Linked DNA regions of Homo sapiens: region 2 is linked to region 1. Evidence: fine-mapped expression QTL. Tissue or cell type: whole blood. Region 1 holds a variant in brackets; the other region holds the start of a gene. All regions are shown on one strand. Distances are from middle to middle.

Region 1 (5,381 bases):
AATCATAAATTATATAAATGTGCCATACAGTTGGACAAACAAGTTAACTTATTAGATTTTTAAATGTACTCCAAAAATAGAGTAGACACACTTGCGGTGTGTACGATGAGATAAGTGCCAATTCTAGGATCCTAAAAGAAATCTCAACATCAAACTCAACGAGCAAATACAGACAAACAAGAAATGAGGGCAAGGCAGCCATTCCTCCGTCAAACGTAGGGGAGAAACTTTGCTTTAAGTGACCACAAGAGAAAATGTGAGAGTGAAATCTTAGTTTTTCACCAGTGGAAAATTAGTTAAGGGTTTTAATTTAGGGTTGTGGGGGCTGGGTGTGTGGAGACCGTAAGGGAGCTGGGACAAGCACAGCTGTGTGACAAATATTAATGGCTATCGCAATTCTCAAACTGAGAAATTCAGGTCAGCCTGTAGGGCAAGCTGCCTCTAAATGCAACAACCTTTTTATATGGCTGACTACTTCTTCCATGAGTAATTTTTTTATTTTTTCACTTAGCTCAAGTTGGAATTAATGGTTCTAGTGATTTGTGTTGCCTTAGATGAAATTCTTAACATTGCAATTTTATTAATCCTACCTGCAAAGAGAGAGCACTCGCGCCTGTAATCCCTGCACTTTGGGAGGGTGATTTCTCATTTCTCAAAACTGAGAAAATAGTTTTTCATGTAAGTTAATATTTAAATTTTCAAATTAGGGGCTGGGCACAGTGGCTCACGCCTGTAATCCCAGCACTTTGGGAGGCCGAGGCGGGTGGATCACGAGGTCAGGAGATTGAGACCATCCTGGCTAACACGGTGAAACCCCATCTCTACTAAAAATACAAAAAATTAGCCGGGCATGGTGGTGGGCGCCTGTAGTCCCAGCTACTCGGGAGGCTGAGGCAGGAGAATGGCTTGAACCTGGGAGGCGGAGCTTGCAGTGAGCCGAGATCGCGCCACTGCACTCCAGCCTGGGTGACAGAGCAAGACTCCGTCTCAAAAAAATACATAAATAAACAAATAAATTTCAAATTAGGATCCAGGTTTTCTTGCATGTAATTTTTCCATCCCCTTTGTATTACTTTGAAAAGAGTATCATACATCACCTAAAATTGTGAGGCTGATGCTTACCCTTATTTAGTGACATAAAAATGACTGCCAATTTTTTTTTTTTTAGCAATTTTATTGTGGCTCAAACTTCCAAGTCCAGGCTACATGCAGGCAAATCTGTAAATCTGACTTCTCTGCAACTGGAATCAGGTAGAGCCATCACTTACAGAAATTTTAAAGGCCCGGATATATCCTCAAATGTACATGCAGAGGTTTTATGGAATACATGTATCCATTTCAACACAAACTTTAAGTTTTTAAATAAAGCTATTTATTAGCTTATAGTAATAAATCCTGGCAAACACTACTGGTTCATAATATGCCAAGAGTTATGAATCAGAAGATTAATAATCAGGGCTACATCTAGTAAGAAAGGTGGCTGGCTGGGCATGGTGGCTCACGCCTGTAATCCTAGCACTTTGGGAGGCCAAGGCAGGTGGATCACCTGAAGTCAGGAGTTCGAGACCTACCTGGCCAACATGGAAAAACCCCATTTCTACTGAAAATACAAAATTAGCAGGGCATGGTGGCGGGTACTGGTAATCCCAGCTACTCAGGAGGCTGAGGCAGGAGAATCACTTGAACCCGGGAGGCAGAGGTTGCAATGAGCCAGGATAACGCCATTGCACTCCAGCCTGGATAACAGAGTGAGACTCTGTCAAAAAAAAAAGAAAGAGAGGGAAGGGAAGGGGAGGGGAGGAGAGGGGAGAGGAGAGGAGCAAGCAAACTTGGGCAACATAGGAAGACCTTGTCTCTATAAAAAATTAAAAAACTAGCTGGGCATGGTGGTGTATGCCTATAGTTCAAGCTACCTGGGAGGCTGAGGTGGGAGGACTACTTGAGCCCAGGAGGTCGAGGCTGCAGAGAGTCATGATTGCACCACTGCACTCCAGCCCGGGCAACAGAGTAAGAACCTGTGTCTGGGAAAAAAAAGAAAAAAAAAAAAAGGAAAGGAAAGGAGAGGGGAGGGGAGGGAAGGGAAGGGGAGGGGGGAAAAAAAAGAAAGAAAGGAAAGGAAAGGGGAAAAGGGAAAGGAAAGGAAAATGAAGAAAGAAAGGAAGATAGTACACAGCAGTAACAAATTCTATTACTAGAGGAGAAGTAATAAAGCCATAAGGATGCTGTATCAGTGAGGACATTCAGCTGCAAGTGAAAGAAGCATAAGTCAATACAGATTTGAAGTCAAGCTATAAGAAAATAGTTGGGGAAATTTACTGGTTCATTTACTGGTTCATGTCATTGAAGAGTGTAAGTGAATGTACTTCAGGCACATGTAGAACCAGGTTCTCAGACAGCAGACATCAGCCTGGAAAACAGCGTTTCTGGCCAGGCACGGTGGCTTACGCCTGTAATCCCAGCACTTTGAGAGGCTGAGGCGGGTGATCTCTTGAGGTCAGGAGTTGGAGACCAGCCCGGCCAACATGGCGAAACCCCGTCTTTACTAAAAATACAAAAATTAGCCAGCCATGGTGGCATGCATCTGTAATCCCAGCAACTCAGGAGGCTGAGGCAGGATAATCGCTTGAACCCAGGAGATGGAGGTTGCAGTGAGCCGAGATTGCGCCACTGCACTCCGGCCTGGGCAACAGAGTGAGACTCGGCCTAAAAAACAAAAAATATACACAGACATTAACTTCCTGGAGCCAGAGCTGATAAATATGGCTCCATTACTATGCTCTTATGATGTGTGCATTTCATACTATGGGCACTTGGCACCAGTGTATGAATTAACTTGTATTTGAGAAGAATGTTAGGAACAGGACATCTCCATTCATAGAAGGATGACTTGAAAGCGGGGATATAGACCGACAGGTCTTTGCAAGCTGATCACACAAGTGATTGCAAACCCTTGAAATGATCACCAATTTTTTGGAAACACAGCATGACATCATGGTAATTAGTGTTCTTTTTTTCCTGTAAAAATTGCTTAATGAAACTTTAGAAATTTCCTATGTATAACTATTTGCATGTTTAGATGTTATTTCCCACAAGAATTCTTACTTTCTGAAACTTCAGAATTTACTGTTCTGGGCTGCCGCTGTTTAATTTCAGTCACTATCTCACCTCCAACAAAAATTATTATTATTTTTTTTGAGACAGAGTGTCTCTCTGTGGCCCAGGCCAGAGTGCGGCAGC[G/A]TGATCTCAGCTCACTGCAGCCTCTGCCTCCCAGATTCAGGCGATTCTCCTACCTTAGCCTCCTGAGTAGCTGGCACTACAGGCATGTGCCGCCATGCATGGCTAATTTTTGTATTTTTAGTAGAGACGGGTTTTTGCCATGTTGGCCAGGCTAGTCTCAAACGCCTGACCTCAGATGATCTGCCTGCCTCAGCCTTCCAAAGTGCTGGGATTACAGGCGTGAGCCACTGCACCCTGCCCTAAATCTAATCAATACAGTTTTGCTTCATTATGTCTACATGTAGAGTGCTTTTGTAGGTGGACAGTGGCTGTTTAGTAAATGCTCAATACACAGATTCTTTACTGGAATAATTTTGTTCAGGCCTTTTCCCAAAAAGTAACAATAAGTACTATGAATAAAATAAAACAAGGAAATTCATACAAATAAACAATAATAGGAAGTTCCTGAGGAAGCTACTTTAGATTAGATGGACACAGAACATTCTGTTGAGGAGGTGATACTTGTAAAGTAAGATATGAATGATACCAAAAAAAGGAGCAACACAAAGATGTTAATATTCTAGGCAGAAGGAAGAGCAAGTGCAAAGACCTAAGACGAGAATGAATCCAGTCTTTGAAGATTAGACAGAGGCTTGTGTGGCTGACCTGTAGTGGGTGATGCAGGGAGAAATGAGAGATGATATCTGAGAGGTAGGTCAGTAAGGCACATCATAAACACAAGCAGGGACTCCCACAGGCAGTTCCACTGTCTTTTTTTTTTTGAGACGGGAGTTTCACTCTTGTTGCCCAGGCTGGAGTACAATGGCTCACTGCAACCTCCGCCTCCCGGATTCAAGTGATTCTCCTGTCTCAGCCTCCCAAGTAGCTGGGATTACAGGCGCATGCCACCACACCTGACTAATTTTTCTATTTTTAGTAGAGGCGGGGTTTCATCATATTGGTCAGGCTGGTCTCGAATTCCTGACCTCAGGTGATCCGCCTGCCTTGGCCCCCCAAACTGCTGGGATTACAGGTGTGAGCCACTGCACTAGGCCTCTTTTCTTTTCTGTGAAGTGAGTTTCTCCACCACGGACACTGTCCTACATATGACAAGGTAGAAAGCATTCTAATCCCATGAATGCTGATGTTGACCAAGGCATGATAGGCAAGGAAAACAGACCCAAATTCAGAATAAGTGCCTATTCCCACAAAAACAAATCATCTCTCCCTCCAATATGGAAGAAGTCCCGTGAAATGAACTTGCCGCATTGACGATACTGGGCTTAGATATGTGTTTTCTGTTGGGATCTTCAAGAAGTAGGCACTGAGACAAAGATTTGTTCCCAGAAGGTGATCTCAGTAATCATCTGGCTACTTTGTTCTAAATCTTTTTGGATTACAGCTCCAAGCCTCAAGGTTCATTTGCCAAGCTCCTCCCAAAACTTTTACACTAATCTTCCATGTTGCTTTTCTCCATCTCTGACTATCTAGCCAGTGACTGGTTACGGTTACAGATCCTCACCTCAGATCATGTTTCTCTCAAGTCAAAGTACATGATAAAAGACAGTGCTTGGAATTCTGCCTACAAATTGAGATTTGCCCTCTACTGTCCTTCAAGACCACCCCAAATATACACAGTACATTTCTAGCTGATAGTGCCTATTGTTCATGGTATCTGTAAGCCAGGTTTGGTTTTTTTCATTTTCAGTTAACTGGATAATAATGCTCCACAAGGGTAAAGGGACAGATTGGTAGGGGCGAGGTGTGGGAATAGAGTAGTTAAAGGCACAGGGTCGGGAGAAATCTGTTCAAAGGAAATGTGTCTTCATGGCCTGTCTGGTCCCACCTGCTAGGTGATGGAGTGCTGCTGGAAATGGTCAACTTTATGAGTAGATGGATTAAATAGCACCTGGTGTCCCATAGCCTCCAACATCCCCAGAAGCAAATTAGAACCGTTTCTCAAAAGGAGAATAGTAATCTTCCAGAAGGGGGTATGACCTTGCTCCAAAGTCCTGTGGGCTTCCATTGTGATTCTCCTGGAGAAATTTGTCTCTGACTTCAATAAGTCTCCCAATCAGCCAGATAGACTTTGAGAGGGCTGAGCAGCAGAGCTGCTTGGACTGCAGACTGGGCCACCTACAGGGACTATTTTTGCTCTGCCAGCT
Region 2 (5,381 bases), 37 kb after region 1:
TTCCAAAATTTAACATGCACACAAAAAGCATGTATTTTCTCCTTTTAAGGATACCAAACATTGTTCTGCTACTGGAATTTTTTTATATTACACACATCTTTGACATCTCTCTATATTAAATTTATAGGTTTATATCATTCTTAACAACAACGTATTCCAAAACACGTATACATATGTAACAAACCTGCACGTTGTGCACATGTACCCTAGAACTTAAAATAAAAAAACAACAACAAACTATTCTAAAAAATGTTTAATTCATCAGTATCCAACTTACGCACACTAATGTTGCTTTTAAAATTTACTAGCACGGTGGCTCATGCCCGTGATCCCAGCACTTTGGGAGGCTGAGACAAGAGGATGGCTTAAGCCCAGGAGTTCAAGACCAGCCTGGGGAACAAAGTGAGACCCCATCTCTTTAAAAAAATTAAAAAATTAACCAGGTGTGGTGGTGCATGACTGTGGTCCCAGCTACATAGGAGGCTGAGGCAGGAGGAAGGCTAGAACCCAGGAGGTCACGGCTGCAGGGAGTCAAGATCACACCACTGCCTCCAGCCTAGGCGACAGTGAGACCCTGTCTCAAAATAACAACAACAAAAACAAACAAAAATGCTGTGGCCAGGCACAGTGACTCACATCTGTAATTCCAGCACTTTGGGAGGCTGAGGTGGGAGGATCACCTGAGCCCAGGAATTCAAGACCAGCCTAAGAAACATAGCAAGACCTCGTCTCTCCAAAAAAAAATTTTTTTAAACAATTAGCCAGGCATGGTGACACATGCCTGTAATCCCAGCTACTTGGGTGGCTGAGGTAGGAGGACAGCTTGAGCCCAGAAAGTTGAGGCTGTAGTGAGCCATGATCGAGTCACTGCACTCTAGACTGGGTGACAGAGCGAGACCCTGTCTCAACATTAAATAAATAAATAAATTTTTAAAATATAATAAAACAATGCTGTGATGTATGTTGGTTTGCAAGAATATTTGTAGAATTAATTCTTTTTTGAGATAAGAGTCTCGCTCTGTTGCCAGACTGGAGTAGAGTGGCGGGATCTGGGCTCACTGCAACTTCCGACTCCCTGGTTCAAGCGATTCTCCTGCTTCAGCCTCTCAGGTAGCTGGGATTACAGGCACACGCCACCACATCCAGCTAATTTTTGTATTTTTAGTAGCGACTGGGTTTCACCACGTTGGGCAGGATGCTCTCGATCTCCTGACCTCGTGATCCGCCCGCCTCCGCCTCCCAAAGTGCTGGGATTACAGGCGTGAGCCACCGCGCCCAGCCGAATTAATTGTTAAAAGTGGAAGTGCTGAGACAAAGGATATGTGCAATGTAAATTTTTACAAATGTTACCAAATTATCCCTCCAAAAAGACTGCATTAACCTACATATTTATATGGTTTTGCCCACATTGGGATTTATCAGCTTGAAAAATACTCAAGGCTGGACGCAGTGGCTCACGCCTGTAATCCCAGCACTTTGGGGGGCCAAGGCGGGTGGATCACGAGGTCAGGAGTTCAAGACCAGCCTGGCCAATATGGTGAAACCCCATCTCTACTAAAAAATACAAAAATTAGCCGGCCATGGTGGCGCCCGCCTGTGGTCCCAACTACTCAGGCAGGCTGAGGCAGGAGAATCGCTGGAACCCAGGAGGTGGAGGTTGCAGTGAGCCGAGATCGCGCTACTGCACTCCAGCCTGGCCGACAGAGACTCCATCTCAAAAAAAAAAAAAAAAAAAAAAAAAAAGAACAAAAACACTTCAAAATTTGATAGGTGAAAAATATATAACACTGTTTTTAAAGTTGCATTTCTGTTGTTACAAGTGAGAATGAGCATTTTTCCATACCTTCATTGGCTGTTTACTTTTCTTTTTTCTGTAAATTATCTTTTTTCATTTTCTATTGAGTTTTTCATCCTTTTCCAGGTGTTTTGTAAAAGCTCATTGCATAATATGGAAAATAGACTCAAATCAAATCCCAATCCCAATCCAATTATTCATACTAAAAAATACTGCACTCACCAAAAAATTGCTTGTTGTCTTCATAGTATTTGTTTCCATATTTGTCTTCCCCCACTAATGTACCAACCTTCGCATCATTTGTCCTGTGAATACCCAAAAGAAAACAGACATTTTAGAATGATTCTTAGTTCAAAACATAAACGGAAATAAAGTGAGAGTAACAACTTTCAGACACAAGGGCTGCTGCATCAACTAGCAAAATGAAGAAGTGCTGGGGATGGGAAAAGATGAATTGACAACTGATGTGCTCAAATTACACTAAAAATATAAATGTAGTCTCTTCAGATTACAGGACTACTTGTATCTACTATCCCTCAGCCAGGAGGCACTGGAATTAGCAAAACCTTTAGGAAATCAAAAAGCCAAAGTATTTCATCTTCTTACAATGATACGAAGGTCTCCAGGCTCTTTCATTCCACTCTGGGTCTCCATTTAGGTTTCTGCGAAACTATGCTGCTCGTGGGATCAGTGAATGTCAGGAAGAGAAGGGACCATCATTATTACCTTCAACGCCTTACAGACAAGGAACTGTACGGCAGTGCAGGGAAAAAAACTTTACCAGGGTCACTGAGTTAATGTCTTGTAATCCTCATTACTCTCCAGGGCGTGGGAAAAGAGGGGAGCCCAGATGCCCTTGCCTCCGAGTCACAGCTCTGACTCTACAGATAGCTTCGGTCTTGTATCGGGGATATATGGGACAGAGACCAGCCTGGGGGTGGCAAGGCAGAGATTGGGGCGGTTGTCCTTGACAAGAGCTGTGGATTCTCCAAGGTGACCCGAGCCTGGGACCCCTTCCAAGAAATCAGCCAGCGAAAGTCCAGCCCCAGAGGCCAAGAGCATGGCTCTGGCCGCCTACCTGAAAAAAACCCGTAGATAGCCTCGGAGACCGCCGTGGCCGGTGATCTGCTGCAGCCCGCGTTTCAGGACCTGCACTAACTCCATCTTGCCTCGCTGGCCCCGCCTCCCGGGTGCGCCGAGCAAAACCCACCGGATGGAAGCTGCCACTCAGCCGCAGGAAGCCCACGCCCAGAAGGTTCTCACGCGAACGCCAGACGTGGTGGCTCTGCGCGTGCGCAGAGCTAGGTCTTGCCTACGCGGTCATGTTCTGGCTTCCCAAGTAGGCAGAATTGGTTTCCCCTGGAAGCAAAGGTACCTTAAAATTTAGTTTTCAGAGGTTAAATCTAGAAGGCGGGCATATGCTGGAAAGCTCACCTACACGAGGCTTTCTCACACGGGGATTCCCCCTTTGGGAATTTCAGTTTCCTCATCTAAAAATAATTGGCTCTGGTGGGCGCGGTGGCTCACTGTTGTAATCCCAGCACTTTGGGAGGCCGGGTAGGGAGGATCGTTTGAGCCCAGGAGTTCGAGACCAGCCTCGCCAACACAGCGAGAATTCTGTCTCTACAAAAAAAAAAAAAAAATTAAAAATTAGCTGGATGTGGTGGCGCGTGCCCGTAGTCCCAGCTACTCGGTAGGCTGAGGCTTAGATGGGAGCATCGCTTGAGCCTAAAAAATTTCAATATTACTTCATTTGTTAACCACAATTCTTCTACAAAGAGAAACCTCCCTTCAACTATTTGGCTCCTGAGATACAATTAATGTAGGAAAGGCAGTATGGGTGCTTGATTCTCTTACTTTTTTTTTGTTTTTTAATTTTAGAGACAGGCTCTCTGTCACCCAGGCTGAAATACAGTGGTGTGATCATAGCTCACTGCAGCCTCAAACTCCTGTGCTCAAGCAGTCCTCCCATTTAAGTAAGTGCCACCACCCCTGGCTAATTTTTTTTTTTTTAGAGATGGGCATCTTGTTATGTTGCCCAGGTTGGTTTTGAACTCTGGCCTCAAGTGATCCTCCTGCCTCAGCCTCTCAAAATGCTGGGATTACAGGTGTAAGCCACCACACCCAGCCGATTCTTTCCCTTATGTGTGTTTTCAAAATAACAATTTAGTTCCCTAGCTTTTTTTTTTTTTTTTTGGTAGTGGTGGTTAAAAACACAAAATATAAAATTTACCATTTTAACCATTTTTAAGTGTACAGTAGTGTTAACCACATGCACATTGTTGCGCAACAGATCTCTAGAACTTATTCTTCTTGCAAAACAGAAACTTTATATCCATGGAACAACTTTTTCCTCTTTCTCCATCCCCTGCCAACCACCATTCTACTTCTGTTTCTAAGAGTTTAACTACTTTAGATACTTCATATAAGTAGAATCATGAGGTGTTTGTCTTTTAGGACCTGGCTTATTTCACTTAGCATGATATCCACAAGGCTCATCCATAGTGTAGTATATGACAGGATTTTCTTCTTTTTATAAATGTTGAATAATATTCCACTGTATGTATATGCCACCCAGTTACCTGTCCATAAACATTTCTGCTGATTCCGCCTCTTGGCTATTGTGAATAATGCTGCAGTGAACACGGGTGTGCAGATATCTCTAAGATCCTGTTTTCAGTTCTTTTGGATATATACCCAGAAGTGGATTGCTAGATCATATGGAAATTTTATTTTTTATTTTTATAGGAATCCCCATACTGTTTTCCATGGCAGCATCACCATTTTACATTACTAACAACAATGCACAAAGGTTCCAATTTCTCCACCTCCTCACCAACACTACATATTTTCTGTGTTTGTTTGTATGTTTGTTTGTTTGTTCTGAGACGGAGTCTAACTCTGTTGCCCAGGCTGGCGTGCAGCGGTGCGATCTCGGCTCACTGCAACCTCCCCTTCCCAAGTTCAAGCGATTCTCCTGCCTCAGCTTCCCGAGTAGCTGGGATTACAGGCGCCCACCACCACCCCCGGCTAATTTTTGTATTTTTAGTAGAGACGAGGTTTCACCATGTTGGCCAAGCTGGTCTTGAACTCCTGACCTCAGGTGATCCACCCGCCTTGGCCTCCCAAAGTGCTGGGATTACAGGCGTGAACCACCACGCCCAACCTGTGTTCATTTGTTTTTTACAGTGGGCATCCTAATGGATGATGAGGTGATACCTCATTGTGGTTTTGATTTGCATTTACCTGATTACTGATGTTAACCATGTTTTCATATGCTTGTTGGCCATTTGTATATCTTCTTTGGAGAAATGTTTATTCAAGTCCTTTGCCCATTTTTGAATCGGGTTTTTTGTTGTTGTTGTTGAGTTGTAGGCATTCTTTATGTATCGTGGATATTTTCTCCCGTTCCCTAGGTCATCTTTTCATTCCGTTGATTGTGTCCTTTGCTATGCAGAAGTTTATGTTTGATGTAGCCCCAATTGTCTATTTTTACTTTGTCTGTGCTTTTGGTATCATATCTGAGAAATCACTGCTAAATCCAATGTCATGAAGCTTCCCCCGTTGTCTTCTAGGAGTTTTATAG

Evidence for each region.
Region 2: NDUFA12 starts here. The variant in region 1 is fine-mapped to the expression of NDUFA12 in whole blood (INTERVAL, PIP above 0.99).

Annotation. Positions count from the first base shown.
Region 1 is chr12:94,964,038-94,969,418 of GRCh38, forward strand. No RefSeq gene overlaps it. Among named protein-coding and RNA genes, the nearest start is that of NDUFA12, 37 kb to the right of the region's middle. The variant G/A (reference allele first, on the strand shown) is at 3,238.
Region 2 is chr12:95,000,722-95,006,102 of GRCh38, forward strand. NDUFA12 (NADH:ubiquinone oxidoreductase subunit A12) reads right to left here and starts at 2,976. Exons shown (of 4, transcript NM_018838.5): 1 at 2,874-2,976; 2 at 2,018-2,100. The coding sequence starts at 2,959. RefSeq lists enhancers at 2,607-3,234, 2,699-3,098.